Homo sapiens: one gene and its partners. The protein of the gene in region 1 purifies or fractionates together with the protein of each later gene. This does not show direct contact. Each region holds a gene or a part of one and is shown on either strand. Other genes may lie near its edges.

Region 1 (8,924 bases):
GGGAATGTTTGGGCAGGTGTGAATGGTGAATCTGAAAATGCTTGGGAGGTGTGAATGGTAAATGGAATGTTTGGGCAGGTGTGAATGGCGAACATGAGAATGCTTAAGCAGGTGTGAATGGTGAATGTGGGAACGTTTGGGCAGGTGTGAATGGTGAATGCTGGAATATTTTGGCAGGTGTGAATGGTGAATGTGTGAGTGTTTGCAGTGGCTTCAGGATTCTCCTACTAATCATCTGTCTCAGGACTTCAAGGGGCAGATAGGTTTGGCAGACGTCTCCTGCAGTTGCCTGAACAGGCATATTTCACTGTACTCCAAATCTAGTATGATTTCCATGATAACTGTGTATTTTATGAGACTTGATTATTCTTCCATACTATTTTTTTACTGATGCTGAACACATATAATTTAATAACAAGTGACTTCATGATAAGAAATTTCCAATACTATAATACTCTCACAAAATACCTCATTCAAATCGAGGAGGGGTTTTGGCATTTAGTGAGAGTAATATGGTATTGGAAACAGGATGAGAGTGAAAGTGAGAAGTAATTCTCTCTTGGTCATGAATTCAGGTTTTGAAGTTCTCTCATCACTGCTCAGTTGCTCAGATATAGACATCATTACATGGTTATTACATTAGTAGAAGAAGCAGGAGTGCTAGCTTATAAAATAGATACAATAATACCTCCACAAGGGCACTAAAAGTATTTCTATCTGTTTGTTAAGGCTGCCATCAAAAACTACCACAGACTGGGTGGCTTAAACAACAGACATGTATTTTCTCACAATTCTGGAGGCTACACGTCTGAGATCAAGGTGTCAGCAGAATTGGTTTCTTCTAAGGCCTCCCTCCTTGCCTTGTAGTCTGCTGTTTTCTCCCGGTGTCCGCCTTAGTCCTCCCTCTGTACATGTGTGTGTCATCATTTCCTCTTCTTATAAGGGCACCAGGCAAATTGCCTTAGGACCACTCTAATGACCCCATTTCACTTAATTACCTCTTTAAAGACCACACCTATCTCAAATATAGTTACATTCTGTGGCACTAGGGGTTCAGACTTCACCATATGAATTTTGAGCAGACACAACTCAGCCTATATGGTACTAAAGACAGTATTAAAATAAGGCTGGGCGTGGTATGAATTTTGAGCAGAGACAACTCAGCCTATAACAGTATGACTGTTAGTTTTATATTAACACTGTTTATTTTTGAGACATAGTGATTCATTCAGAGGACAGAAGCAATCTGCTGGGAATTATCAGAGGTTCCCAAACCCAGTCTACCCGTGTCTGCCCTGGCATTCTCTGTTGCCCTTCTACATACAATGCTCTTAACTGAAGCCAGCCCCTCACCTCAGCTCAGGATCCATACCCCCCACCTTCCCAGGGGCTTTGCTCCTACAGTGATCACTCCCCTCTCCTGAACCATCAATGGCTCCCTCTACATTGGATCATTCCCAAAGCTAAGGGGGAACTCACCTTCTTCTCCCATGTCCTTCTGTAGCTACTAACATGTTTATCTGCTGCCCTTCAAAGGAAAACTGCCTCAACTTATACAACTAACTTCACTGGAGTAAATTTTCAAAGTTACCTAGAAAGGAAAATGAGCCAGAACAGCCAAAACCATTCTGAAGTATAACTTTGGGGAACTCACACTACCTAATATCAAGAGTCATGTTAATTCTATAGTAATCAAGAGAATGTGGTATTGGGGAAAAATCAACAGATCAGCAGGAAGTCCAGTAATGGACTCACAGACATGATAAACTGATTTTCAGAAAAGGCACAAAGGCAATGGAGAAATTATCTTTTCGAGAAACTGTCTTGTTTTACTCCTGCTACTTGGCCACCACATTCATTGTTTTTATCCCCCTGGGTCCCTTCCCTGTGTTTCTCCTTTGCACTTCAGCTGCTCTTCTGTTTAAGGGTCTTCTGTAAAGGTGCCCTCCTCCCCCCACCAACAGTGTGACAGCCTCCACAGCAAGTACCACATATTGTTGGTTGGTCTTCTCATTTCCAGCATCCAAGACATTTCCTATAACATGGCAGTCATCAATGCATATCTGTTGAATTAAATTATCAGTCTTTTGTAATGACCCTAACAGAAAAGCATCCCCTCTATTTAGGAGTCATTATTGGAGATGGTATGTTTCTAGGCACCTTACATATGGTTTTGTGTCAGACACTATAGGGCAAAGGCTCTGCCATGGTGTCTTGGAGATCTTGCAGGTCACCACATAGGACACGTAGGCAAAGCCAGACTGCAGGCTAACCTGAATGTTGGAAGAATACCTGGATTCCTTTTGTTGCAAGGGGAGATAGGCAGCGTGGTGGGAGCTGCCACAGGTATTTTCTCACCAGCTCCCTATCTGGTTGGAGGTTGACACGAGACCATTCTTTATCCATTTTCCTAGTTTCCATTAAGCACGGGCCTTTCCTCATCTTAGGGTACAACTGTGGAGTATAAAACTGCTCACTGTCTTAGGGTACAGCTGTGGGCTCCTCACAGGCAGAGAGACCCACCGTCTGTGCTGTCATTGTATACCTCCGATTCAGTGTCATACTGTGGGACTAGGGACACAGTGCTGACACAATGCTGACCTTGCTTTTACTTTGCCTGCAATCAATCAACCATTTGGACCCATTTGGGCTCATTGTCTTCTTATTGGTCAAATCTATGGATGTGTGACAAGCCAAACTAACAACGGCAGTGGGGCTCCTTGCTGCCGTTAGCCACTACAGGTGTACTGCTTGAACACTTGACACACTATTGTGTTGTGTGGTGTTGGCTGACCAGAAGGACTTATTCTTCACGGCATCACACACAGCAAAGGGCACAGTGTTCGGCACATTCCATTGACTTAGGGTTGGCCTTGTCAGACTGCGTTTATTCACAAACCAACTTTAGAATTGATGTCATGTCTGACACCAGCTACCCTGGTTTTTAATTAATATATTTATTTAAATTAAGTAAGTCTCAGAAGTCAAATTCATTTAAAAAGGTAACTTGATACCCCTACTTGAAATTTAAGAGCAGTTATTACTTACTAAACATGTGGTTGTAAAGGCAAAGGGAATGAAAAAAATTGAAATTTTAAAAGAAGAAATATAATAAACCAAATTTATCTACAGTGTATTGCCTAATCCATATGTTATTTCATTTATTCTTCATAACAAGTATTTAGTGTAAATATTCTAATTCCTACTTTAGAAATGGGGACATTGCCTCACAGATTATAATATCTTGCCCACCCCCTCAAGGCCAGTGTGTAAGAGGCAGGATGGAATCCCATGGGTATTTCATGCCATAGCCTATAAGGAGACAGTGTAGGTAGGACCCGTCATCTTGCTTCAGCAAGTTGCCCTGGTTCCTTGCCGCTTACTCCTACCTAGGCCCTAATTCTTTCATCTAGCTCCATAGCCTAGGGACTTCTCACATATTTTGTGGCAAATGGAACACCCTTAGAAAAGATGCAGATGAGGGGACACATAGGGTGAGGTATGCAGGGAGGGGCAGGGAGTTTCCATGGCCTCTACGGGCATGCTACCCTCCATGTGTTCAGCTAGCCAGAAGCTCTCTGAACCGTGTCCTTTTGGGTTTCATGGAGGTTTTCATTATGTAGGCATGACTGATTAAAATGTTGGCTTGCCATTGGTGAACAACTTAACCTTCAGCCCCAACCTTCCCTGAAGTTTGGGCATGGGGCTGAAAGTCCCAACCCTCTAATTCCTCATCCTAGAGCTCCTAGGGACTGCCAGACATTGGTCAACTCACTAGCATACAAAAAGACATCACTTTATAGGAGTTGTATGCCAGTAAGCACAGTCAATGACCAAATATACATTTCACCATACCACACTTGTGTATCAGCTAACTCAGAATACAAAATATCAAAAATGATACTTTTTTTTGAAACAGAGTCTTGCTCTGTCATGGAGGTTGGAGTTGCAAGTGGCGTGAACATGACTACCAGCATCCTCGACCACCTGGGCTCAAGGGATCCTCCCACCTATGCCTCCAGAGTAGCTGAGACTATAGTTGCATTCATTCATTCACTCATTGTAGTAGAGAGGGGTTCCTATATTCCCCAGACTGGTGTCACTTTCCTGAGCTCTAGCAATCCTCCTACCTCAGCATCCCAAGGTACTGGGATTACAGGTGTGAGCCATTACACCTGGCCACAATTCTCAATAGTATCAAAATACCTGGGAATGAAATTAACAGAAGAGGCTGGGCACGGTGGCTCATGCCTGTAATCCCAGCACTTTGGGAGACCAAGGCAGGCAGATCACGAGGTCAGGAGATTGAGACCATCCTGGCCAACATGGTGAAACCCCATCTCTACTAAAAATACAAAAATTAGCCAGGTGTGGTGGAACGTGCCTGTAGTCCCAGCTACTCAGGAGTCTGAGGCAGGAGAATTGCTTGAACCCAGGAGGCAAAGGTTGCAGTGAGCCAATATCATGCCACTGCACTCCAGCCTGGCGACAGAGCAAAATTCCATCTAGAAAAAAAAAAAAAAGAAAGAAAAAAAGAAATTAACAGAAGATGTGCAAGACTTCTTTGGAGAAAAGCTTAAAACTTTATTAAGATATTTTAAAGTAAAATATCTAATATAAAAACAGTTTGTGTTGTTTCAGCTTATCTTCCTTTAAACCTGTGATTTCCCTTCACCTGTAATAGAAACATAACAGGTGGAACATTACTAGCAGAACTGTATTTAGATCACATTAAGATATGCAAATGACACCAAAGTTTTTGTTTCGTACAGTGGACTAAGACCATAAACCCAAGAGTCACCCTCTGGCTTACATTCAATTAGACCTCTGTGGAGACTTTGGAGATAAACTTCCAAACATATACATTATTAATATTTTTTAAACACACCCTGCTTTCTAGTGCTACAAGGAAACCAAAAGACAGTCCGAGGTCAGAACACATTAAATCAAGTGAAACTCTTAAAAAGGGATTTAATGTATAAAGCAAAAATTGTGTATAATTTTACTAAAAATATAACAAATACACACAAAAAAACTAAGAAACAAAGGAATTTATAAAAAATGTACAATTTAATATTTTGGCTTGAAACTATGGTCTGGATGTCAAATAGGCTCCTGGAAATAGTATGAAAACTATCTTTTAAGAAAAGAGTTAATGTCACATTAGAAGCTGCATATGCGTGGTGAATAGAAAGGACAGTATTGCATTTGTTTTTTCCTCTATTGTGCCAAAGTGCAAAAATGTTGCTTTGGGTTAGTTTACCCTTCTGTAGATATTAAGGTATGGTAAACATCTGTCCCCAGTTTTCACCTATAGTCCTGATGTTAATACAAATATCTCTTTTTACACTTGAAAAAATTCCCCTTTGTATAATTAATTATATGATCGCATTACTTTTAATCTATCATTATCATTATTGATATCAAAATATGAAAGAGGTATATATCATGAACAGTATGGCACGAAAAAAAAGAAACGGAAAGGGAAATGGAGATGTAGAGGAAGACATCTAGAATAACTAAATATTTATTTCTAAAAGTAAATATTATCAAGGGACAACTAGCAAATTTCACAAGTTCATGCACAGTCTTTGTGATGAATAGATATTCAGGTACTACTGGGATATATTTAATAATGCATGCATTCCTAGCTTATCAACCATTTCATCTATATTCCGAAAATATTAGAGTTTAAGAACGTATTCACTTTCAGCTGGGCGTGGTGGCTCACATCTGTAATCCCAGCACTTTGGGAGGCCAAGGCAAGTGGATCACCCGAGGTCAGGAGTTCGAGAACAGCTTGTCCAACATGGCGAAACCTCGTCTCTACTAAAAATACAAAAAATAGCCAGGCATGGTGGTGCATGCCTGTACTCCTAGCTACTCAGCTGAGGCAGGAGAATCACTTGAACCTGGGAAGTGGAGGTTGCAGTCAGCCAAGATCATGCTGCTGCACTCCAGCCTGGGTGACAGAGCGAGACTCTGTCTCAAAAGTAAAACAAAAGAAAACAAAAGAATGTATTTACTTTCAGTTATACTACATATTCAATATCTGTGTCTTCTTCATATTCTGTATTGTGCTTTTCCCATTTTCTTCAAGACTGGAGAAACAAATAGATAGTCTATTCATAGCTATTTTTAAAATAAACAATGTGTTAAATGTATTACTTTTGGATTAGTTTTCCTAATCCAAAATCCAGGTTCCTACCTGTCTGTTATTAAGTACCTCTTTCCTTTTCCATTAGGTTTATTCTGTTGCTCTTTTATTATTATATTGATTATTACTTTATCATGTAATTTGCTATCTATTCTAATAAGATGTGCATTTAAGGCTGTGATCTTCCTAAGAATACAACTGAGGCTTGTTCAATCGGCTCCTGAAAACTATCTTTTAATGTAAATAGTTTAATGGAATGGTTCAGCAGTGCAGAGTAAAACATTTAGGTAATTTCTTCCCTAAACATGGAGTTCTTCCTTTAAATTCAGAAGCTCTTCTCATTAACAGTCAGCAATTTATAAAAAAAAATGTGTAAAAGATACTTATGTTGACTACTCAAGAATTAGTACATTATAGTCTTTGAACTTTAAGTCCTATCATCTGATGTCTCAAGGCAGAAACCTGTAATATGTAACCTATGATATGGTTAGAGGTGATTATATCATGTGTGTCTTTATTACACACAGTAGCTCATGAAGACTGACAGGAGAGCAAAAAGCATGCTTAGCACAGGCATCTTACACCCACCTTGAGCATGACTGACCTACATGCATTCTCCCTACTTCATTGGCCACAGAAAGTAGACTGTCTCTTGCCATTTTATTATTCAGTCATTCAAGGCTTCACGGTGGGAAGGCTTTAAAATACAATTATTCTTTAAAAGCCAGATAATTCAGAATTTGACAAAATCCAAGAACACTCATTCAAGTCTCCATGCTGGAAAACAAACATCAAGCAGAGTGCCTGCTCATTTTCTTAGGAGCAATGAAATCTCAGCTCAGATATTGTAATTGGACTGAAGCTGATTGTTAGGAAAAACAAATCATGGGAATCAGAATATCTTTCTATTCTCTCCAACAGAACCAGAGCATGCAGAAATCAGCATTGAAACGGATTTTAATACATTTGATCTGCATTCACCATTTTCAATAACAGCAAAGATGGGTGTAGAATTTATGGAATTTGTCCAGATTCTCACAAATTGTCATAGAGCTGCTACTAGAATCTCCTTCAGTACTCAGCATATTTCACACAGTCTGGTATTACAAATGCATTATGTATTTGTTAAAAGCAGAAATTAGAAAAGAATCTGAAAATTGTTAGCTGTTGGTTATACTCAGAAGTAAGAAAATGCTGTCATATTTGATGATTCAATATGGCTTTGACCCAATTTGTGTCTGTATCTGAGAGCATTTAAGTCTTGCAGTCAGGCATTGGGATCTGAAGTACCTTTCAAAGAAAGTGTGTATTTGAACACTGTTATTAAAGTGGCAGTAATATTATCTCTCTATGATCAAAAGTATAATATTGTAAAAAATAGAAATCACATAACTTTGTGTCTTAATGAATAACACACCTGCTTCTGGCATTTTAAAGTGCTCTGCTTTTGGTAGAATCTTCCCCTTGACATCAGTACCACCTTCACATCCATCCCCAGTCTTTGTCTGACATAGCTCCTGGAGATCGGCTTCCAGGTCAGGCACTAAAAAATACAAAGGTTATTGAACTTGAGTACAAAAACATGAAGTATAAATAAGGAAGTAATAATATTCTATTCCACAGAGTTATGACATAAAAGCCTGTAGGCTAGTGTGATAATAAATGTGATGCAAAGCTGTCACACTTTTGTTTTCCTGTATTATGAATTCCTATTTTATTTGTTTTTTAATACAGGGTTTCACTCTGTCATCCAGGCTGGAGTACAGGGGTGCAGTCACAGGTGACTGCAGCCCTGACCTCCTGAGCTCAAGTTATCCCCCTGTCTCAGCCTTGTGAGAGGCTGAGACTATAGGCACATGCCACCACCAAGGCTAATTTTTGTATTTTTTTGGCAGAGAAAATTTTCTGGTGTTTCCCCATGTTTCCCAGGCTAGTTCCTAACTCTCAGGCTCAAGGGACCCACCAGCCTCGGCCTTCCAAAGTGCTGGGATTACAGGTGTGAGCCAATGTACCTGGCCTGAAATCTAATATAAAATGACAATCTAAGGATAAATCACACTACACCTTCATTTCCTATACTTTGCCAGTGTGCATTATAAACAGTGAGTATCAACTATGTAAGATATCTGAAGTTTGCTGCATGAATAGCATTTTAATAATAACTCAAAGATAATTTTCTGAAAGACTAGATCAATGTATTCCTGGGCTTATGACAAAAACTTACAATTGTGACAACCATATCTTGCTGAGGTAATTTGAAAATTATTTGGTTAAAATTAATTAAAATTATGCTTAGGTCCAAAGGCCCTAAATGTAACTTTTCATAAATAAATCCTATTGAGAATATAGTACCAAAAATAAGAGGAAAAAAAGTCACAGTTTTCCCATGAGAATTCAGGAAATTGAGTGAAAGAAAGTAATGAGTGTTGTTGACAGTCATATTCTGGAAACCTCTTAACCGTGAACTGCTAAAATAATCCATGGTCCAAATTCCGTCAACTTTAGCTTGAAAATGCTATCTGTTGAGGACACAATTTCTGTTTCATGATAATTGTATCATACTTTGAGTTTTCTAATTATAAAAGTATTTAGGCAACTTTTAAAAGTTCCTTAAAAAGCATACTAATATACCTACCTGTATGCCAGTGTCCTGAACTATCCACCTTTTACCAAACATACTGTCAAAAAATACTGATCAAAGGGAACAGTGGCTGTCATTCATTGAGCCCTTTTCCGGATTTGCTATCCTGCTTCACTGAATTTGTTT
Region 2 (11,764 bases), on another chromosome or scaffold:
TGGACTTTGTCTGTTCATGCTTGCTCGGGCAGCGTCGGGCAGAGAGGGTGCCACTGGGAAGGAAGGGAGGGGCCCCATCGGCAGACCTGAGCAGCAGAACAGCTGGGATGAGTCACAGGGGACCCCAACTTGGAGGCTTTTGTATCTCGCTCAGGAGCGGGGCCCACAGTGGAGCCCAGATCTGGTTTAAACCAGATCCAAGGAAGAGGAAGGAAGGGAGGGCATTCCCACAGCTGAGGAAAGGCTAGCCCAGGACAGCTGCACACCCCACTGTGTCCTAATAAGCCACCATGCAGAGCCTGTGGGCCCTGCAGAGCCTGTGGGCACTGGGTATTAAATTGCGCTGAGAAAGTGCTACCTGTGTTCCGCTTGATAATGGTTCTAAGGTTATATGAAGTATGATTTGTTAGCAATGCATATGGAGTTATTTATGGCTAAAATGGCATCATTTTACCCCTAGGTACTTTGCTAAATATACCAGCACACCTCTCCAAGCACAAAAGGTTATAGGGGATGGCTTGAACGAGAAGAGAAAATACTGGTAATTTTTGAAATTAGGCATGGGCACATGGGGATACATTTTACGTTTGTCTCTATTTTTGAAAGTTTTCTTAATAGAATATTTAATAAAACAGACACTAAAAAAATAGGAAACCGTTTTGTAGCGGTGGGCTTGTGTGGAGAGTAGATAGTGAGCTCTGTGGCCACCTCTGCAGAGGGTGACCCCTCACCTGCGCCAGGTGGGGTGCCTAGCTGCATGGACCTCGTCTGAGGCTCCGCCTCGCCAGCTCTGTATTTACACCAGCTCAGCCCCTGCCACCGAAGCTGGCCCTGATTCTTTAGCCTTCCAGGGTTCTGCCGGTGCGGACCCACCTTCAGGCAAGCAGGTTTGGGTTATCTCTACTTTGTGAAGTCAGTACCTGTTTCAGCTGCTTTCTGTCCTGAAAGCACAGCACCTCCCTGTGGTGGGCTCCTTTCTTGTTCTGGTCCCTCCTTCAGGATCCGGTCAGCAGTCGGTGAATCTGTACTCTGCTGTGGTGAACCCAGGGTGCCCCTCCCACCCATGGTGACCTCAGTGGGGCCACCCCAGTGCATCTGTGTTTTTCCCACCTTGTTAAAGGATTCCTTGTTTTATCTCTTTTTTCCCAACCCTAACTGGATCCCATTGTCATTTATTTGATATATCCTTCCCAGAACATCTCCTTCCTTACATTCTCCTGCCGTTCTGCCTGGACCCCCTACCCCGCAGCTCCCTTCTGTGTTTCCTTCTTACACAGCACAGAGCCAGAATCATACAGCATTATCGTTTTTATGATTGTAAAAATAATGCATGCCGATTGTAAAATAATCCAGATACTACATACATGCATGAATAAGAAAGTAAAATCACTTCTTATTCCAAAACTGAGGGAATCATTCTTAGTACTTTTGTATGTTCTCCTAGACTTCTATGTGTATAACCACATTGAATTTTTGAAAATAACTTGTTTTTCCTTTAATGTAAACATTTTTCAAAGTCAGTAGGTACAAGTGCCCTGCAGCCGCTGGTCCTGAACCAGGGAGTCACTGCAGAAGCATTTGGTGGTGGTGGTGTGGAGGGGGCATTTTTTCAGGATGTACATGCCCTGGTTCTACGCCTTTCAGGTCTTGTTCCATAGGTTTGGGGTGGGGCCCAGACTGTCTTTTAAAAAAGTTGCCTGGGTGATTCTAATGCAGCCTCATTTGGGCATCGAGAAGTCTCTTGCTGGCTTCAGGGTAGATCATTTATGCCACCTGGGCGTGCCCTGCAGCCACTCTTCTGCAGGTAGACAGGTTGGTTGTTCCTACTTTTCTGTTATTGCAAAAGCTGGGTCCTTCTAGATACATGTTTGTGCACTTAATTATATCTTCAAGTGGAGTCTTAAGAATATGTATTTGTAATTGATTCATGTCTCCAAGTTGCTTGCTGTGAAGTTTGGACAGAACTCACAGTGATGGTGTGTCATCTCTGCAGACCCCACAGATACCAGCTTTGCAGTGTGCCAGACCGAATACGAAGAATGTCAGAGGCTTATGTTGAATTTCTTTGTGTAATTTCCTTTGGGGGGCATTTGTAGTTCTTCTTTAGTGAAATGCCACTCAATTATTTGCTTATTTTTGGGGGGGCTACTTCTTGTTTTCTTATTGGCTATCAGAGAACTTTCCGTAGCAAACCTGTAAGGCTTTGTCTGGTGTGCTGCAGAGTGCCTGGCATCCTGGGTGCCCTCATTGCTTCCACCTCCACAGGCGCCTTCAAGTCCTGGTCCTCTCAGAATCCTCCAGTGACCATGTTCCCCAGTCAGGCCCCAGACTCTGTGTCCTGCTCCTTGCCTTGTGTGCAGGTTCCTCTGGCTGCCCCAGAATCCTTGGGGCTCCCACAGATTCATTGTACCGCTGCCCACTGCTGGCCTGTGATGGCCTGGACTGTCCTGCCAGGTATACGTTCATGTTTCCTGGATACCCAGCCCAGAACCCCTCTCACCCCAGAACCTTCCTTGACTTCTGCCAGAGTTGAGCAGCCGGCCCTCTGGTAGGCGCATGTGAGTGGATGTGGGCACATGTGGCCCACTGGATCTGGTGGATGTGGTCGCGTCTGGCCCCCTGGATCTGGTGGGTGTGGGCACGCCTGGCTCCCTGGATCTGGTGAGTGTGGTCGCGTCTGACCCCCTGGATCTGGTGGGTGTGGGCACGCCTGGCCCCCTGGATCTGGTGGGTGTGGGCACGCCTGCCCCCTGGATCTGGTGGGTATGGTCGCGCCTGGCCCCCTGGATCTGGTGGATGTGGTCGCGTCTGGCCCCCTGGATCTGGTGGGTGTGGGCACGCCTGCCCCCTGGATCTGGTGGGTATGGTCGCGCCTGGCCCCCTGGATCTGGTGGATGTGGTCGCGTCTGGCCCCCTGGATCTGGTGGATGTGGTCGCGCCTGGCCCCCTGGATCTGGTGGGTGTGGGCACGCCTGCCCCCTGGATCTGGTGGGTATGGTCGCGCCTGGCCCCCTGGATCTGGTGGATGTGGTCGCGTCTGGCCCCCTGGATCTGGTGGGTGTGGGCACGCCTGGCCCCCTGGATCTGGTGGGTGTGGTCGCGCCTGGCCCACTGGACCTGCTCATGTGCCGCTGCCTCCTGCAGTTTGTGCAGATGATGGGCGTTTCCTTCTCTGGGCTCCCTGTTTGTCCCCCGTGCTGAGGCGTGTAGCAGGTGCTCGATAAGTGCTTGCAAAGCCAAGCTGGCCTTGCAGGGCTCGGCTCAGTCAGCCCACACCTGCTGAGCAGCTCTTGTGTGCCTGCACTGCCCAGCGCCTGGTGGGAGGGAATGCCGGCCTCTCGTGACTCTGACATTGACCACCAGTCTTGTCTGATTGCAGTTGGGCCGGTGCACAAACAGCGTGGTCAAGTATGAGCTGATGCGCCCCTCCAACAAGGCCCCGCTCCTCGTGCTGTGTGAAGACCACCGGGGCCGCATGGTGAAGCACCAGTGCTGTCCTGGCTGTGGCTACTTCTGCACAGCGGTAAGAGCCCAGTCCGGCAGCCTCTGAGTCCTCCGCAGGCTTTGCTGTCTGCTCACTGGTGCTGGTTCCTGTCCTGTGTCCACCTGCTGTCGGGTGGTCCAGCAGCTGGCCCAGGTCTGGTGTCCGTCTGGAGGTCTCCAGTGTTCACAAGCCCCTCACCACCCCTGTCGAGCCCCAGTGCCTTAGACACCTTCACCCCCAACCCCCATTTCCCTCCTACCGCCTGGAAACCGCTTTTGGAGATGACTAGGACGGTGTGACCTGGGCTTCCAGGCCAGAGGAGGGAAGTGAGGGTTGGGGGTGAAGGTGTCTAAGGCACTGGGGCTCGAGAGCAGTGGTGAGGGGCTTGTGACGCACTGGAGACTCCAGGTGGAGGCTGTACTGAGGACGTTCATCCCCCATGACAAGGGTGTACTGAGGACATTCACCCCCCATGATAAGGGTGTCCAGAGCACACAGCTCCTGGGAGAGGTGGCAGCACCTTGCTGTGCCCTGGGCTGTTTCTGCTGGGATCTTGGGTCATCAGTTACTTCAATGTCAAACATCTGTGCTCAGCCGTGCCCAGGGCCCCCCGAGAATGGGCTGCTTCCCTTTGGAGCTCCCCTGTGTGGGCATCCTCGTGCATGTAGGGTGTGTGTGTGTGTGTGTCTGTGCGCGCACACATCTGTGTGAGCCTCTGCCTGTAAGCGTCTGTCTGTGTGCGCCTGTGTGTGTGAGTGTTTGAGTGTGAGCTTCAGGCACCCAGAGATGCCCTGCTGCCCCTTTACGAACATGGGCCAAGAGCTTCCACTTTTGGGAGACTTTCTTTGGACTTCACACCTTGCATGTCCTCCCCATCTTCAAACATCCTTTTTTTGGTTCTGCTACATCTGTTTATCTCTGGCTTTCTGCAAGAAAATGCTGTTCTTACGGCTGTGTGCCCCTCCTCGAGGCTCACCTGGGTCGCCAAACCACATCTGCTGCGCACTGCTGGGCACTGAGGCAGCTCCACCTGCCTGATGCTGTGCCCTGAGGTGCTGTCGTCTGTCCCTGTCCCTATCCGCCCTTCAGAGTAGGGGCCTTCTGGGTCCTTCTTTAGGCCTTCTCTTTGCGGGCAGCCTCAGCTTTCCTGGGCCTAGGTGGGTTGGAGGCAGCCAAGTGACCTCTGTCTGGCTTCAGCTTCTTCTCTGTGGGGCGAGAGCACCACGGGAAGCATCGTTCCTCCTTCTTAACGATGCCTGGGGCCAAGACTGGACCCCACCCCGACCCATGGCTCACTCTGCAGACCGCCCGATGTGGGATGCGGTGCCAGTTTAGTAGTACTTTATTTTTCTAAATATTAACCCCAATTAAAACAAAAATTTTTTTTTGTCCTCCCATTTTTAGGGTAATTTTATGGAGTGTCAGCCCGAGAGCAGCATCTCTCACCGTTTCCACAAAGACTGTGCCTCTCGAGTCAATAACGCCAGCTATTGTCCCCACTGTGGGGAGGAGAGCTCCAAGGCCAAAGAGGTGACGATAGCTAAAGCAGACACCACCTCGACCGTGACACCAGTCCCCGGGCAGGAGAAGGGCTCGGCCCTGGAGGGCAGGGCCGACACCACAACGGGCAGGTACCTGGCACAGGCTCTGGCTGGGCTCTCCAGTCGTCCACCTGAAAAAGTTTCAGTTGTTAACTCAACGTTATTGCTTCCTGCTGTTTTTTCCAGAAGTCTCTGAGCTGATGCTGATGCTTATGGTGATTTCTGACATTTAAGACTCTGAAATTCATTTATTGCCATTTGTGCATACGTTGCTCTCTTTCGGTTTGGTTATGTAGATCCATTTGCCTGTTTTGAACCGGTTTTCACAGCACCCCCATTGATGTAGCTCTGTGGTGTTTCTGTTGATGGCACAGTCCTGTTGGTACACAAGCGATAGACGAGTGGTGGCTGCTGCAGTCTGTGACCGAGTTCTGTGGTATTAAGGTTTGAAGGCCTTAGCTGAAGACAAAAAAGTCTAAAATAATTAGAAGTGTTCATATTAGACAGATACAATTGTCTTCCTGAAAGAGTCCAGTAGAAACAGCTGAAAAATTTTTAGAGCTCAAAAGAGTCAGTAAGAGGATCTGATAAGAAGAGATAGAAGCCACTTGCCTTCTTCCTTAGCAGCAGTTCCCTGCCTGAGAATAAAATAACAAAAGAGACCCTTTCAAAACAGCAACAAAACTTGTTACTACCCAGCAGAACAAAGAACTTAAATGTGACACTAATATAAAGAAAATAAACTTCCTTGAAGATTATTTAAAAGAGACTCAAATTGTGGACATGTTAAGGTGATTCCTTCCTATTAACCTGTAAATTTAATGCACTTTGAATCAAAATTCCAGTGGGATTTCCTTTTGTTGGGGTGGGCAGTGGACTTGATAGATTCAGCTTGAAGCTCATTCATGAGAGTGTATTTGAACACGCTGCCCAGAAGTCTAGGAAAAGTTGCCCTAGTTTTCTCAGGAAATTTGGTTCTGAATCCTGAACCGTTAAATCCAGGGACTAAGCGGACAGTAAGCAAATCCGCAGCTCTCACTTAGAAAACAGCGCTCTCGGGCAGTCAGAGTCGGAACAGGCCATGTTTCGTGTTTTCATAAACCTTTCCCCGATTTCCTCCCCTGAAGTGCTGCCGGGCCACCACTCTCGGAGGACGACAAGCTGCAGGGTGCAGCCTCCCACGTGCCCGAGGGCTTTGATCCAACGGGACCTGCTGGGCTTGGGAGGCCAACTCCCGGCCTTTCCCAGGGACCAGGGAAGGAAACCTTGGAGAGCGCTCTCATCGCCCTCGACTCGGAAAAGTAAGACCTGACATGTGATTTCAGAGATGTCTCAGAGCCTGTTTTAATCTGCACCCCGCGTTTTTCCCCATGGTGTCACTTTAGCACTTCTCAGCTTTTTGATTAATGCTGTTCGTTAGAATAATTCGTATATTTTCACACTATTTTGGGAAATTATTGTAAATTACTGTCCTCTGCATTATAGTAAGAGCAACCTCTGACACCTTTGAAGTCCTAAGTGAGGAGGCAGGTCTTGGTGAGCTTTGACAAACATTTCCTGGTTGCTGTTGGCCCTGAGCTGCCCTTAGGTCATGAGAGCAGACACTGCTTCTGCTGCCTTGACTCCGTTTCCCTCCCAGGCCACACCCCATCTGTGCAATGCGAGGGTTGGGCCAAGGGGCCCTCCAGGCTTTCCCGACAGCTCACAAAAACCCACCCCTCCTCGTCCTCCTCTCAGCATTGCCCCACCAGGGAGGCAGACCAGACTGTGGCAGTGAGGCTTGCGGTGCCTCCTCCCTGGATCTCCCCTCTGTCTGCCTCCAGCCTCGCCTCTGAGCCTGCTCTTGAAGCGACGGTACCATCTGCTGACGCCAACAGGCCCTGCTCGCTGACCAGACCCCAGACTGTTCCTGACCCACAGGCTCTGCTCGCTGACCAGACCCCAGACTGTTCCTGACCCCACTCTCTCCCCCATCCCTTGGTGATTGTGTTAGTCTGCTTTTGTGTCAATATAAAGAAATGCCCAGGGCTGGATGATTTATATAGAAAAGAGGCTTAATTGGCTCACGGTTCTCCAGACTGTACAGGAAGCATGGTGCTGGCATCTGCTCCTTGGGAGGCCTCAGGAAGCTACAGTCATGGTGGAAGGCAAAGCAGGAGCAGTAGCAAGAGACAGAGAAGGGGGAGGCTCCCAGACTCTTAAGCGACCAGATCTTGTGGGAACTGACTGAGCGGGAACTCACTCATCACCAGGGGGAGGGATGACACTAAGCCATTCATGAGGGATCTGCCTCCAGGATCCAGTCACCTTCTACCAGGTCTCACCTCCAACACTGGAGGTCACATTTCAACGTGAGTTTTGGGAGGGACAGAGGTCCACACCATATCAGTTATCAGCTTAGTCATCGAGTTAAGGTTTCAGAGCAAAAGTGCCAGTGTTCCCAGCTCTCACCGCCCAGGACATCTTCTGTAGTGCGAGCTGTGCCCTCACTCGTGACCACGCTGTGTGGGCTCATCCTGGCTGGGGCTGGTCCCGGCTGTGCTGAGCGTAGATGAGGTTCCCCTGCATCCTGCGCTGGTTCTGTCGTCGTGTTGTGTAAAAGCCTCACAGTGCGTAGTGTTCTCCTGCGGTGACTGGGAACGCAGTTTCTTGTCCGCAGTTTTTACCATGAGATATCTCGACTGGTGGGTTTGCACTTGAGCTTGTGGGGCTGGTGGGCAGACGTCTGCCGGGCCTTCCAGCCTTCAGCTTCATGTGTGGGACGCGGAGCCCCATGAGCTTGAGGGGCTGGTGGGGAGATGTCCGCCGGGCCTTCCAGCCTTCAGCTTCATGTGTGGGATGCAGAGCCCCATGCTGACTGTTGTCTTGTGCTTCCCACAGACCCAAGAAGCTTCGCTTCCACCCAAAGCAGCTGTACTTCTCCGCCAGGCAAGGGGAGCTTCAGAAGGTGCTCCTCATGCTGGGTAAGTGCCTTCCTGCGGCCCGGGCACATGCAGCCGGCCCTGTGGCACTGAAAGAAGCCGAGAGCAGTTGTTACTCCTTCCTCAGGAGGCTGGTCTCGTTTTGGTTTTCTGTTTCTGTGTCTCCGAGTTCTCTGATGAGTGAGAATAGGTTGCCCACTGGTGTTGAGGCTTTTTATGGTGTTCATATCCAGTTACGCAAGATATTAGAACTATTCTCTACGAAGTTCTAATTTTTAAAAAGGAATTGGTATGTGATTATTAAATCAAGCAGAAATAGAGATTAAGGAAAAGCAAAACTAGTGAGTTGTGGCCCTGAGATGTGTGGTGATGACGCTGAGATGTGTGGTGATGACGCTGAGATGTATGGTGATGATGCTGAGATGTGATGACGCTGGGATGTGTGGTGATGACGCTGAGATGTGTGGTGATGACGCTGAGATGTGTGGTGATGACGGCATCACTGAGATGTGTGGTGATGACGCTGAGATGTGTGGTGATGACGCTGAGATGTGATGACGCTGGGATGTGTGGTGATGACGCTGGGATGTGTGGTGATGATGCTGGGATGTGTGGTGATGACGCTGAGATGTGTGGTGATGACGGCATCACTGAGATGTGTGGTGATGACGCTGAGACGTGTGGTGATGACGCTGAGACGTGTGATGACGCTGGGATGTGTGGTGATGACGCTGGGATGTGTGGTGATGACGCTGAGATGTGTGGTGATGACGGCATCACTGAGATGTGTGGTGATGACGCTGAGACGTGTGGTGATGACGCTGAGACGTGTGGTGATGACGCTGGGATGTGTGGTGATGACGCTGAGATGTGTGGTGATGGCATCACTGAGATGTGTGGTGATGACGCTGGGATGTGTGGTGATGACGCTGGGATGTGTGGTGATGACGCTGAGATGTGTGGTGATGACGGCATCTCACTGAGATGTGTGGTGATGACGCCGAGACGTGTGGTGATGACGCCGAGACGTGTGGTGATGACGCCGGTATGTGTGGTGATGACACTGGGATGTGTGGTGATGACGCTGGGATGTGTGGTGATGACGCTGAGATGTGTGGTGATGACGGCATCTCACTGAGATGTGTGGTGATGACGCCGAGACGTGTGGTGATGACGCCGAGACGTGTGGTGATGACGCCGGGATGTGTGGTGATGACGCTGGGATGTGTGGTGATGACGCTGAGATGTGTGGTGATGACGGCATCACTGAGATGTGTGGTGATGACGCTGAGACGTGTGGTGATGACGCTGGGATGTGTGGTGATGACGCCGGGATGTGTGGTGATGACGCCGAGACGTGTGGTGATGACGCCGAGACGTGTGGTGATGACGCCGGGATGTGTGGTGATGACGCTGGGATGTGTGGTGATGACGCTGAGATGTGTGGTGATGACGGCATCACTGAGACGTGTGGTGATGACGCTGAGACGTGTGGTGATGACGCTGGGACGTGTGGTGACGACGCTGAGACGTGTGGTGACGACGCTGGGACGTGTGGTGACGACGCTGGGACGTGTGGTGACGACGCTGGGACGTGTGGTGATGACGCTGAGATGTGTGGTGATGACGGCATCACTGAGATGTGTGGTGATGACGCTGAGACGTGTGGTGATGACGCTGAGACGTGTGGTGATGACGCTGGGATGTGTGGTGATGACGCTGGGATGTGTGGTGATGATGCTGAGATGTGTGGTGATGACGCTGGGATATGCGGTGATGATGCTGAGATGTGTGGTCATGACGCTGGAATGTGTGGTGATGACGGCAGTCGATGTTTCACCTGTGCTGATCGCAGCAGCTGTGGTGTGGACAAAGTAGGCTTCAGCTATAGGTATTTTATAACAGGCAAACCGATTGCATTAGATTTCTAATACGCAAAAGCATACTTGTTAGAGAGCCTTCCCAGTGATAATTTGGTCTCTGAGCTCATAGCTTTAGGCTTGATTTCTCTGACGTTCATCGTCTCTGGGTTGAAAAGGATGATTAAGAAGCCCTTTACTGGACAGTACGTCAAGTAAAAAGAAGTGAAACTATTTGCTTTTAAAGAAAGGTTTATTTATGTTGACCAGCAGTTTTAATCATTTTGTCATGGACTTCACAGGACACCTGTGAAGGTCACCTCACTGCTCCGTTGCTCACCGTCCTCTCAGACCTCCTGGGAATTGACCGATGCTCAGGCCTCTGTCCCCGGCCTTGCTTGCTCCCCTAGGGTGTGTCTGCCCTGGTCAGCCGCCTCACTGGGCCTGGGGCGGCCATGGCCAGGCCACACAGAAACACAGAAGGAACCTCAGAGTTAGAGCAGGGTGGTAAAGGGAAGAGCGTGCCTTGCCGAGTTAGTTCTGACAGAGGGACCTGCCTGTTCAATTCCGCAGGAGACTAGCACACTCAAGTCTCAAGTCCAGAGGATGGTGCTGTGGGCGGGTTCCGGCGTGGCTCGAGGTGGCTGTTTATGTGGAGGATGGTCATTTGTGAGTGCTTGCCAGCCATCGTGACAGTCCTGAGCTGGAGTCTGTGGCTACATCTGAAATCATTAATAAAACTGTGTTTGTTCACAGTGGACGGAATTGACCCCAACTTCAAAATGGAGCACCAGAATAAGCGCTCTCCACTGCACGCCGCGGCAGAGGCTGGACACGTGGACATCTGCCACATGCTGGTTCAGGTGCGGCGGCACGGCGCCCTCCTAGGGCTCTTCACCTGCTCTCTTTTATTTTTACCAAAGTAAAATCATACCACGTTCGCGGTTCTTCCAGTGTAAGAGTTCCGTAGTGCTGTGAATCGGGCACAGAGTCAGCTTTTCTGCCCCCGAGTCCTGCAGGTGGATCAGTGCTTCCCGCTGTTTCTTCCGGCATTTACCACGGCCTTTGAGAAGAGCATGCCGCCATTTGGCTGTTTCTTGATTTGCTTTCTTTGGTTTTGGTTTTGGTTCTTCACACTCATGACGTCCCTCTGGGGGAGCCAAGCACTCGCAGAGGCACGGACGCCCCTCCCCCAGCCCCGTTGACTGGCTCCCATTTTGTTTAGATCAGATCGTGTGAGCATTTTCAAGCTGAACCACGTCGTCTACAGGGTATGTTGTGTCTGTCGTTAATCACTGGCTTGTGTTTCTGTTGGTTGAGTTGACTCTGCCACCTGCTAATTTATTCTGAACCATCTGAACGCTGCCCGCTTGTCTCTGGGTTCAGACACACGACGCTGTTTGTCCCCCTGTGACGCCCCTTCCCTGATCCCGGTGTTGGATCCCCTGTTTCTCAAGTGCCAGGTTTGAGTCTGGTGCAGTCTGACTTCTGATCCTTTGTGTGTGACCTATTATTTCTGGAGACTTTAGGAACTTTCCTTGAACCCCACTGGTCTGAAGTTGTACCTCATTGTAATGTGGGTCTTTTTAGATCCACTGGGGCATTTGGTGCATGTGCTGTGCCCTTTCAGTGCAGAAATCCACACCTGTCAGTTCTAGGAGGATTTCCTGTGTGACTTCTGTGCCCAGGTCTTCTACCTGTCTCAGCTCTGTCCTGGGACTCTCATAACTCAGGTGTGGAACCTTCCAGACCGATTTCCTGCCGTGGTCTGTTTTCTTGTCTTTTGGTTCTGCCTTCTAGGCAGCATTCTCACCTTCAGCTTCCAGCTCCTGGGGGATTCTTAACATGTGTGGTCACATTTTCAAATCCCAGTAATTCCTTTCTGCTCTTAGATAGTTCCTCTTTCAGTAGCCTCTTTTTCTTCCCTTATTTCTCTGATGGTATTATGGTTATTTTGAA
Region 3 (11,764 bases), on another chromosome or scaffold:
TTCTCTATCTGGAAAACAGAAAAGTTAATAAAGCTTGAAAAAAAACTTCTTAGTTGGCATGAATAAGCAGCAAAGACATCTGTATAGCTCTACTGATCAAGAAGATTTTTTTTAATGAGGGAAAAAATGTTTCAGAATTTCCAAGAAAAAGAAGCATTAGTTTTTAAAGTTTCTCAAAAGTGGCTACTGGGTGTGGAAAATAAGACCCTAGGCTTTCTTCAGTTTCTCATTTTCCTTTTCTTTGCCTAGGACTGCCAAACACACGCTTTCTATTTCCTAGTACTTCTAATATTTTGGTAGTACTTAATCATATTTTTAAAATAACACCCTCTTTTATTCTTCAGGACCTAAACATATTCCCAGTCATCCTACATTACTTTTCTCTCTGATAATGAAGATTTTTTAGATAATCTTCATAAGTGCATTCTTGGTAAATGGAGATTTACTACCAGTTATTTATAAGTAATTAATCCTGTGTTTTGCAGAATTTTCAGATGAAGTAAAAGCATTTTTTTAATGGACTAATAAAATCTGGACTGGAGATATCTTGCCTTATTGGATATTTGCATAATCTGCTTGAATAATCAGAATGGAACATTAACTCCTCTAAAGTCTAATTTAGGCCTAAGCACTTCTTGGATCTCTGCTCTTTTTAATTAGACTCTTATTTATTCAGTCTTCACCAGAATAGTCCCCATTTTAAACCCACCTTCAGGCTGGGTGCGGTGGCTCTCGGCTGTAATCCCAGCACTTTGGGAGGCTAAGGCGGGCAGACTGCCTGAGGTCAGGAGTTCGAGACCAGCCTGTCCAACATGGTAAAACCCCATCTCTACTAAAAATACAAAAAAATTTGCCAGGCATGATGGCATGAGTCTGTAATCCCAGCTACTCGGGAGGCTGAGGCAGGGGAATTGCTTGAACCAGGGAGGTGGAGGTTGCAGTGAGCCGAGATCGCGCCACTGCACTCCAATCTGGGTGACAGAGCGAGACTCCGTCTCAAAATAAATAAATAAATAAATGAACAAACCCACCTTCATTTTAGAATTTTCCATTGCTTATTTTTATTTCAATTTCTTATTTTAAAAATAAGAAATTCAAAAATAGACCGCCTGTGTAAGGTAGAGAATAGTGATTAAAAACAAAGATTAGGTAAGATAGCCCTGATTTGAATTACAACCTTGCTACTTATTAACTGTGTAAGTTTGAGCAAATTAAGTTCTTTAAGTCCTAGTTTCCTATAAAACGTTAAGAGAATTCCAGTACCTACAACTTGTATGGCTGTTGTAAAGATTAAATGTTATGCATGTAAATTGCATAGCATAGTGCCTGACACATAGTAAATGTTCAATAAAAGTTAGCAAGTATGGTAACAATAATGATTTCCTACTTGTATAGTCTCTTATTTTTATTGTTCCCCACCTCTAATGTCTGCAATCACTTGCCAAGCCTGATAAAGGTGAGGGTATATAAAAATTATAATCTCAGAGTAGGAGGCCTAATCCAGTAGACTAAAACTCACCCCACTCCTCTCTTTTTAATATAAATTGTCAACATTCATCCCTGGTCATTTGTATATCAAGTTAAGGAAGAATGCAAAGAAGCAGAAGAAAGACACTAGTATAAATATAAGTGGTTTTTTGAAAGCAAGAACATATTGGATCTAAGTTCTAGGACATGAGGAAGAACAAAAAAGCTGGGAAAACAACTAGAAGAAAGCAGGAGGCAGTGATCTAAAAAAGAGCAAGAGAAATAAAATGATTGGAAAGAATTTTAGGCAAAAGAATTTATGTAGATCTATGTCAAAAAGAGGGTATATTTTAAGATGTGAGGGAAATGAGATTTGCTGAAGCAGGGTAGCTTAAAAGACTACAAATGAAAGTGCAAAGCATTTTGTAGGTTATAAGAAGCGTATTACATATAAGTAAGCTAATAAAATTTTCACAGATGAGCAGTATTAAGAGGTATCTGCAAGGTTGGGCTAACCAACCAAAAATAACACAGAAATGTGCATGTTAACACTTATGTGCATAGCTAAATTTATTAATCCTTAATATATTTAAGAAGTATTAAAAGAAAAATCTATTCGCTTGTCAACACAAGCCATTATTAAGGCTCACCCCTTCAAAGATCTAATCTATAGACTAATGAAAATTCATTAGTTTGCTTAGTTTCCTAATCAAGTCTACATTTTGAAATTTCCCTATAATTTCCTTTTCTAATAAAGGATTTCCCCAAGCTAGAACTACAATATTTTTATGCTATGTTGCCCAGGCTGGAGTGCAGTGACTATTCACAGGCACAATCATAGCACATTATAGCCGCTAACTCTTGAGCTCAAGTGATCCTCCTGCCAGCCTCATGAGTAGCTGGGACTATAGGGGCACACCACTGAGCCCGACTAGAACTATAAAGAGAGGTGTTTTACTGGAATCTAAAATCAATTTAAAAATCAAAAATAGTATTCTAAAAAATAAATGGGATTAAGGTAGACTCAAAGTTCCACACCTCTTGGGTTAATTTTTTTTCCCCCAAATTAAGTCAATAAGAGCCAAAAGAAAAAGATTAACTTGCTTAGAATTACATCTAACAGTTTACAAGTTGCTGAAATTCAATGGGTATTCAGACTCAAATGCAGCTTACCAAAGAAAGCTATAAATATGATCTGAATTAACACCAGTCTGGTGGGGAAAAAAAAAGTGTATTGTATCAAACAGACTTGCTGTGATATCTGTTCAAACATACCTGTACCAGTCAAAAGTCCAGCACTCTTCTTTCGTGCATAAGCGCGTAAGTGGTTGGACAGGCTAACAGCACTTGTAAACGTCGTATTGCAATGCACACATGTTCTAAGCTTCACAGGCATACCTATCATTCAAAAGAAAACTATAATCCAGTTCTCACTTCAAAAAGTGAAATTTTCTTAGCTTAAAGAGTGTAGAAAAGCACCACAATAAAGATGGTTTTCAAAACGTTCAATGAAATAGGTTAACTTAAAATAAGGAGGGGAAATTAAGTTAACTGTTATTAGTTTGTAGTTAGTATTTAGAGTCAACTCATGCTCTTTGGAAAGGTAGACGAGGAGTGACTTGAACCTTTGAGCTCCTCTGGATATACACCTATTATTACTTTCTTGCAGATTTCTGTGTTACGCAGATTATTTCTTAAACCTACTACAATACAATCCTGTGATTTGAACAACACGGTTCTGTTGAGAAGTTTCAAAGCTTACAACATTACCAATAAAAAGAATTAAAAAGTCTAGTTGACAAAGTGGTAATTAAAGTGTTTTACCCACAAAACCGTAAAAGTCTCAATACTAAATTAGGCTTTCTGATGAAGGCTGGGAGAAAAGGTGGTAAAACACACCACTGAACAGCTGTTAGACACAACATTTTATTTAGGGTATTTTATGTTCATTACTCTGAATGCGCAATCAATAATGAAAGTTAATGATTTAAAGTTTTTTGCTAAAATCTTTGTGCTAAATAAATGATCAACAAGCTAACATCTTAGTCATCACAGGAAAAACATGTTCAAACAATAAGAAACTCCTAACTTCTCAGACAATCCTCACTCCCCCAACACATTTCAACTGGTTTCTTCAGCATTACTGTGATAGCCACAAATATGCTTTCCATCTCTGAAGTATACTACCCCTTGGTCAACACAGCTAACACATCTTCCCTGCGTTTTACCCTTCTGAAAAAATATTGAAAGCTATTGACTTTCAGAGACTCTTTATTCGAAAGAAAAAGCCGGATTAAACAGAAGCTCATACAAGATAAACTGCTTTCCAGACCACTTACAATACAAAGTTATCTTTCCTTAAATCAAAACTGCATTACAACTATTCGGGATATCACAATGTCTGCCCCAAAGCAAATAAACAACATTACTTTACAGTAATGTTAGTCGTTATTAATCCATTAACTATTACCTCTGACACATTCAACTTAGAGCTCTAATCATGAGACCATTTACATAAACCTTCAACATTAACCTTCAAAAAGAAATCTAGAAAAAACACTTAAAATTTTTCTAGTCTAAAAGTATAAACCACACTTGGCAATACTGAATAAAGTTTGGCTACTTTATCTGCCACATTATTTGCCAATACATACAAAATATTCCTTTCAAAAGGAAAAAACTATTGGTGCACCAGCACTAAGCTAAATCATCTGTCCTGTTCCATTAGAGCACTATCTTAAAACCTAAAACCCCAAACAAATATGTTTTATGTTCACAACTGTTCTCCAAAACCAAACTATTCCGCAATACAATGAGGAATTGGAGAGGGAGATGTTTCTTTGGGTTAATCACAACAGACACCAATCCATTCAGCTTTAAGAGTCTGTTTTGTTTTACCTAAGCAGTGGAAAAACCAACAGCTAAATCTTGAAAACATGATCACCTTGGAGAACTGGCAAAAATATGACAGAGGTATGCCTTTTCAATAATGCTATGCTTTTGAACATCAACCTCCCATCCACAACCATCCTCCAGCCAGAGCAAGTTTTATTTTTACAGATCAGCTTTTTGTTTGTTGTTTTTATTGTGTGTGTGTGTGGTTTTCTTCTGCTTTTGTTCTCACCTTACATTCAGACCAAGAAAAGAGGCACAGAGAACTCAGTGCTAATGAGCATCAATTGATGAGTTATACAGAAATGACAGTAGAATAACCAATCTGTGCTCTGTAAAAAAAAAAAGCAGCTTAAACAGGAAGATTGTGAGAAAGTATTTTCCACATAGATTCCATTAAAGAAGGCATAATTGAACTGCATTTAAACTGTGTATAGCATAGTCATAAACGTCCTCTTACCTGAGTGCATAGTCAAGTCCATTTTTTGTGGCTGATACATCAACGGACTATCCTCATTTAATGGAAGAACGCATTTCTGAACGAATCTCTTTCTTGCTGTCTGATTATGGATCTTTTGAGGAGAAATAGCAGAATTCCTTTCTTCTCCCATCCTTTTATTTTTAAGAAGTTCTATGAGTGTAAGAGACTGATTCTTTTTCCCACTGGGCAGTTCTGGTTTTGTTTCATCATATTCATTTAAGAAATTCAGCCCTTCTTCTTCTGATGCAGACACTGACAGAGCTTCAGTCTTTAGGCCATTACGGTATGCTTCAAGAGGTATAACATTTTGAGATATAAAGTCATCACTTGATGCAAGTTTTTGAGCTACAAATGGTCTGGGAATAATACGACGACTGTTCAATGCCTTTAAGATTTTTTCATATTTTTCTTCATTTTGCATCATCTCATTCAGAACACAGATTGGAGATTTGTGAGCATCCCATTTCGTCTTTCCAAGTCTTTTCAAGTGGCCTCTAACATGATTTGATAATCCAATTTTAGTATCAAACCAACCACCACAGAGCTGACAAGTGTGTTCAGAAGTGGTTTCAGACTTCTCTATAGCTAGAAAAAAATTTTTAAGAGTAATATCAGACTTTCTTATATAAACTGACCACCCTAAAATGAGTTAATTCTGAAACATAAAATTATGATTCTAATAAAGACTAAATTCAAAAAAAACTTTTAAATCTTCAGAATTAGAACACAGACCTATCAGCCCAAATCATCCCCATGGAGAACTTACCTTTTCTAACTCGTTTAACAGGTGTTCCTGTGCCAGTTCTTTTGAAATGCTGCATTTTGTCACTTGTGGCTATTTGTTCTGGTGATACAACATGACGGGCTTCATAGCTTAATCCTGCTCTGTGAAGATGCCCCCTGACATGATTTGATAACCCAACACCTGTTTCAAATGTTGCTGGGCAGTAAGGACACGATTTCTTCTCAAGAGACAAATCAGTCCAATGAAAAACAGAACTATGCTTTGACAATGAAGCATCTGCAGTTTCTAAATGCTGAGGATCATGTATCTCATGCAAAAAGTTGTTACTTCCAGTATCTTCATAGTATTCAAAATAAAAGCCATCGTTTTGGTCATAACTAAGAGTAGCATTTTCTCCAGGCTCCTGACCTTCCACTTTGCTCTTAAATAAAGGGAATAAATTTACATGCTCTTGATTAATATCACTATAGGTTTCATCTTCTATGGCCTGTGTAGTGTAGTCTCCTAACTCAACATTATCCCAGGAACTTTCATCTTCTGTTTCATAACTATCTTTCTTTTCAGCAGAATTAAGTTTTTGCAAAACGACAACAGTCATTTTATGCAAAAAATCTGGATAGCTATCCAAGTCTTCCCCTCCAACAGAACTTTCCTTCTTAGATTCCTTAATTACTCTCTTTACAGCTACACGTCTGTGATCTTTGAAGCTTTCAGGCCTTTTGGCGTCAGGCTTATGAGGGTCTGAAATAAAATTGTTGTGAGAATTACTTGATGATGAAAACAGGTGTAAAGAATTTAATGAACTAGCTTCTTCTTTTTTGAAATGCACAGGATATGATTCACCTGATTTTTTGATCATCCTATAGTTTTCATATTTGTGTCTATACAAATAGTGGCTATTTGCCTTGGCATTAGACTTTTCTTTTGCTGCTTGATGGAAATACTTAGGTTTTTGGTCAACGCTGCTTTTAATTGTAACATTCTTATGAGGAGAGCTGTTTTGATTGCACATGTTTACACCTGATTGGGCAATGCTTTTCCGAGCTTTCTGTATTCTGTGTGGCCGCTTATGAATTTTTGAAAAACTACTTGATTGTGAGGTTGATCCAAATGTTCGCTTCACATCTTGTTTTAAAGCAGAGTTCTTTGGAAATGTGGTTGACTGTTGTTTAGTTAATGTTTTAGTGCTATCACTATCTACAGGTTCTTCAAGGATGTCATTTTTTCTTTTATCAAGTCCAAGAGGACTACCAAATGAATCAACACATGATGATGAATGCAAGTACTCCGTGTGCTTTTTTAAAACACTTTTGGCTGAAGTAGTAAAAGGACACATCTTACATATGTAGGTAGCTGATTTTTTGGATGATCCTACTACAGAGTCTTTCATGAAAGTCTTTTTTTGTGTTTTTCTCTGGGCAATATCAGAAGTGACCATAGGGCATTTTACCACTGCCCCATGTGCAATGCCTCGATGGCATTCCAATTCATTTTCTGTCACTGCCATGAAGTTACACTCTTCACAGCAGTAGTACCTTTTATCTTTTTCATGGGTTTTAGCATGTTGCACAAATGTTTTAGGGCAATTGGTACCAAACACACACTGAGGACACTGTAATCGTGCACTTCTTCCTTCATCCTGAAGTTCTTTCAATTCACGAATTTCCTCCATCAACTTCTGTCTTCTCTCCTGGTGAATAATCATATGTTTTAGAAGTGAATTGCGATCTCGAAATGTCCGTCCACATTCTCTACAAGCATATGGCCTTGGGACATTAAGATGGCGAAAGTGACTATTCCCATCTAAATGATACATCATATGCCTGTGGAGGTGCTTCTTCTCCCTAAAATTCACATTGCACTTTGTACAGGGGTAGAATGATGGCTCTTCGGTACTGAAAGTAGCAGGTGACTCAGAATCACTCTCTTCACATTTCTTTTTTAAGGTATTTGAAAGAAAAGTGCTAGTATGAACAGGTGAACTCTCTTCTCCACACTTATCTGGGTTATAAATTAGATGTTGGAAGGCATCCACAGATTCTAAGTCTTCATCAGTTGATTCAGGCTTCACTTTTGATAATGCATATTTCTGTGAGTCTACTGCTTGTAGCTCTTCATTTTGTTCTAGAAAGTCTACTTCTTGCATTTTTGATTTATTGGGTACACAATTAGAATCACTAAAGCAATCCTCGGTATAACGAGTTATCTTGCTTACATCCATTTTTCGCTTTCTTTTTTTTTCTAGACCTATTTTAGAATGAGGTGGAGCTTTATCTACTGTTTCCTCATTAGTCATAAGAAATTGAATGAACTCTTTTTGGGGATCCCAGTTTGTATCATTTTCTGACCTAAATCCATCTGTACCTGAGGAAATTCCCGTTACTGTATTGACACAATCATCTTTCACCAATAAATCTTCACCATCCTCACCCACCTCTACTTGATTTATTAAAGTGCCATCTGACTTTATATTACTCCCTACTGAATTCTGAATGTCACAACCAACTGAAGCAGAGGTAGGTAGTTTTTTATTGGAATGGGTGGGATTCTTAGCATGTGCTACATCTGATAACAAAAATAAAACTTGGTGTTGACTTGCTTTCTGTGGTGTAGACAGCTGAAGATCAGCTGCTACCTTCAAAGTTGAACAAGATTCTGTTGTTGGCTGATCCACAGGCTGTCCAGTGGTTAATGAAACACTGCCTTTATTCATATTGGAAGTCTTAGTTAAGGAGGAGTGTGAAACTGGTCCATTAACAGCAGCTCCTTTAGGCAAGATAAAGTTTTCACTAGAAACAGTAGGAGCACCAGCATGTATAAATAGACTAGACTGGCCTCCACTTAAGGCGTTTTCAGATTTGTCCTTTGACAGTTCTTCAGGCAGAGTCAACGTATTATTTTTCTGAAATGATGTTTGACAATCTTTTGGCTTATGAACTCCGCTCTCTTTGTCTGAGATAAAATTGTTGTCATCTAGGAGTTCTTCTTTAGCACCAGTAATATCGGTGTTTATCTTCAAATCATCCATATTGTTGGCAAGCCCATTTAACACATTTAGTCTAGAAAATGGAAAAAAAAAATTTAGATTTGCATGAAAGAAAAAATACTATTAGAATGTATGGAGAGTTGAAAGTACATATTTTTATTAGTTTAATTTTCTACTCTTTATATTGAGATTCTAATAATTTTCCAAGAATGAAAGAACACAAACATATTGAAATATTTAAAAAGCACCTCAAAGGTTAATATTGTTCTTCATGCTAGGCAACAACAACAGTCCAATACGTCATGTATACAAAATGTCTAGGGAAAAGCAACATACACAAACACACTAGGGAAAAGCAGCATACACACAGATACACATGTATACACAGACTCAAAAACAATATAAATATGCTACAGACTGAAAAAATTTTAAACCTCACGTGGAGATTGCTAATACAAAGAAAATTCTTTCACTTAAGTAGGTTTATCAGAGGTAGTCACTCTATTCTAGAGAACAATATAAATTATCAAATATTGCAGAGAAGTAAAAGATTTGTCACTTATAAGTTCATTCCTGAAGGTAACAAAACACCATTCAGTAAATAACTTTATTGAATGAACATATTTGCTATCAACATCAATGTTTTATGTATGAAATAGTCCTTTTTAAAAGACTGCTTTGCTCTCAAGATGCTTAATGTTCTCCCAACATTCTATCAATTGTAAAAATGCTTTATTCATAGTTTTGTTCATTCCTTATTCAAATTAACCTTAACTATAATTTTAACTTTAGTAAAGTTAACTAAATTTTAGTAAAGCGAATTTTAACTTTACTAAAGTTAAAATTAATGAAGGTTTATGTCAAACTTTCATATGTGGGGCCTCAAATTCTAGGCATTCTCTAAAAGCAGTTATCCCACTTATGATCTGGTGGTCTAGTGCAATGGCCTAACACATTTTACAATAGAATAGCATAAACATATGTTTTAAATTTATTTCATATAAAATGTAGATAAAACTTTTCTAGGCATTTTTGATAAGATATTTAATCATTATGAGAAAAAAGTACAATATTTTTAAAGGAAACAGTATTTCTGAATGTTTGGGGTCCATTCACACCATGACTGTAATGCCTACCCCCACTATGAAAAGTTCCCTTGCAACCTGTTTTTTTCCTGCTCTTAGAAATGGCCACATTGGAAGTATCTGCCTTCTTCAAAGAATGTCAGCTCTTTGAGGGCTGGGAATGTAATCTAGTCACTATCATATCTCTAGAACCTAGTACATCACTTGCCATAGGTGCTCAGGCAATATTTGTTGAATAAAATACTGAATAAGTATTGGATTAATAAAAACACAATTTCAAAAATCAAAGTAAAAGTTCCTAAAGTGTACAGAAGAAAAACAGTTTTGTTCCTATGAAATTTGGATACCCCATTCAAACACAAGTTCCATCAGGTTCTGATTTATTAACTCAGTAATTATAATAAGGTCCTCAAAATATCCAGTAATTTTCATGTACAATTTAAAGAACCTGCTATTTGGCAACCCCAGGTATTAACTAATTGAAGTACTGGCATCATAAGCTTCCATATTTCTTCTCCTTTTTTGCAGTTATTCTCCAAATATTTCCTAAGCACTTAGTAGTGCCATGCATTGTTCCTGTATTCCAGATATAATGGTAAACAAGACAAGTTAGGTTCCTGCTCTCAGATAAAGAATGAAGCCTGTATATTTTTCTTTTGCAGTATTTTTAATTTGCATAACAAGTAATACTATTTTAGGGCAACAGGACCTTACAATCTAACATTTAGAAATCAAAACATGTTCAATATAGTTCAATATTTCTACTATCCTTTAAGGGTACCAATTTCATGCTTTGTAAAACATTAAATCTAATTCAAGAATAATAAAATTGTTCTTAGGCTGGGCGCGGTGGCTCACTCCTGTAATCCCAGCACTTTGGGAGGCCGAGGCGGGTGGATTACAAGATCAGGAGATTGACACCATCCTGGCTAACATGGTGATACCCCGTCTCTACTAAAAATAAAAAAAATTAGCCAGGCGTGGTGGTGGGTGCCTGTAGTCCCAGCTACTCGAGAGGCTGAGGCAGGAGAATGGCGTGTACCCGGGAGACAGAGCTTGCAGTGAGCCAAGATTGCGCCATTGCACTCCAGCCTGTGCAACAGAGTGAGACTCCGTCTCAAAAAATAAAAAACAATAAAATAATAAAATTGTTCTTATATTTTTCTTATTTTATAACTTAGAACAAGCACTTATAATCTGATCTTATTCTTTCCATAAAATGTTATTTAATACAACAAATACCTATTACCAGTATCTTTGACATTGTTTTTTATACCAACAATCATTTTTTCCACCCCTCGTAGGTTTTAGAATTCTGTTTTGAGATTGGCAAACTTCTGTGGTAATAAAAATAGACTTCCAATAAGATCACATTTAATGATATCACTCCAAAATGGTGCTAATGCATCACCCAGCAGGAGTCTCTACATCACATACACAGAAGTTAAAAATGGGCAGCACATAAACATGTGTTAGGAAAGGGTGTGCAAATGTCAAGGGAAAGAAAAGCAAGCCTTAATGCTACACTACCATTCATTCCTGATATTTCTCATTAAATTAGGTAGAAAACATAAAACGCTTCAATAGCAACAATCTCATAAATCTGAAACGAACGACAAAAAACTAGCTTGAAAGACAGTTACTTTCCTTTCCGTTCCCACTTATTATAATCACAGAGGTGGACAAATATATGCTAAGTCAATTTGAAAGCCTATATTAGTTTTTCTCAACAGGAAGCAATGTTGCTAACGAAGTGGTAAATTCAGTGTTAATGAGTGGCTTCACTGTTACCACCTCAGAGGTAAAACCTTCCATGTTCTATGTTCCACCCATCTGTTCTGGTGTTAGAGGTTTAGAGATGGAACAGACGCTTCCCATTTAAAGCAACTTCATTGGTACCCCCTGAACAGCAGGGTGACAAACTATGAGAACATCATGTCAGCTTGGAGACTGCATCCTCATTACCGGAATGGCTTTATAAGAGCTTTTCATAAGGTCACATTCTGAAGATATCAACCTGTTTTGTTCAAAAACATAGAAAAAATATATGTGCATAACAGATATTTTATCTACAAAACACATCTAGCAAAAAAAAATCCGATTAAATA

Evidence for each region.
Region 2: the proteins of XAGE2 (region 1) and EHMT1 purify together in Homo sapiens (affinity purification with mass spectrometry; 2 studies listed by BioGRID and IntAct, with this or other methods). This does not show direct contact.
Region 3: the proteins of XAGE2 (region 1) and ZNF644 purify together in Homo sapiens (affinity purification with mass spectrometry; 2 studies listed by BioGRID and IntAct, with this or other methods). This does not show direct contact.

The regions. Positions count from the first base shown.
Region 1 is NC_000023.11:52,371,320-52,380,243, reverse strand, and holds the end of XAGE2 (X antigen family member 2), read right to left. Parts: intron 7,701-8,924; coding exon 7,575-7,700; intron 4,676-7,574; coding exon 4,653-4,675; 3' UTR 4,564-4,652; downstream 1-4,563.
Region 2 is NC_000009.12:137,771,730-137,783,493, forward strand, and holds part of EHMT1 (histone-lysine N-methyltransferase EHMT1), read left to right. Parts: intron 1-3,379; coding exon 3,380-3,523; intron 3,524-4,888; coding exon 4,889-5,115; intron 5,116-6,152; coding exon 6,153-6,326; intron 6,327-7,905; coding exon 7,906-7,988; intron 7,989-10,561; coding exon 10,562-10,668; intron 10,669-11,764. UniProt on the Homo sapiens protein: Histone methyltransferase that specifically mono- and dimethylates 'Lys-9' of histone H3 (H3K9me1 and H3K9me2, respectively) in euchromatin.
Region 3 is NC_000001.11:90,932,666-90,944,429, forward strand, and holds part of ZNF644 (zinc finger protein 644), read right to left. Parts: intron 8,645-11,764; coding exon 5,607-8,644; intron 5,426-5,606; coding exon 4,820-5,425; intron 2,866-4,819; coding exon of another isoform or gene 2,743-2,865; intron 1-2,742.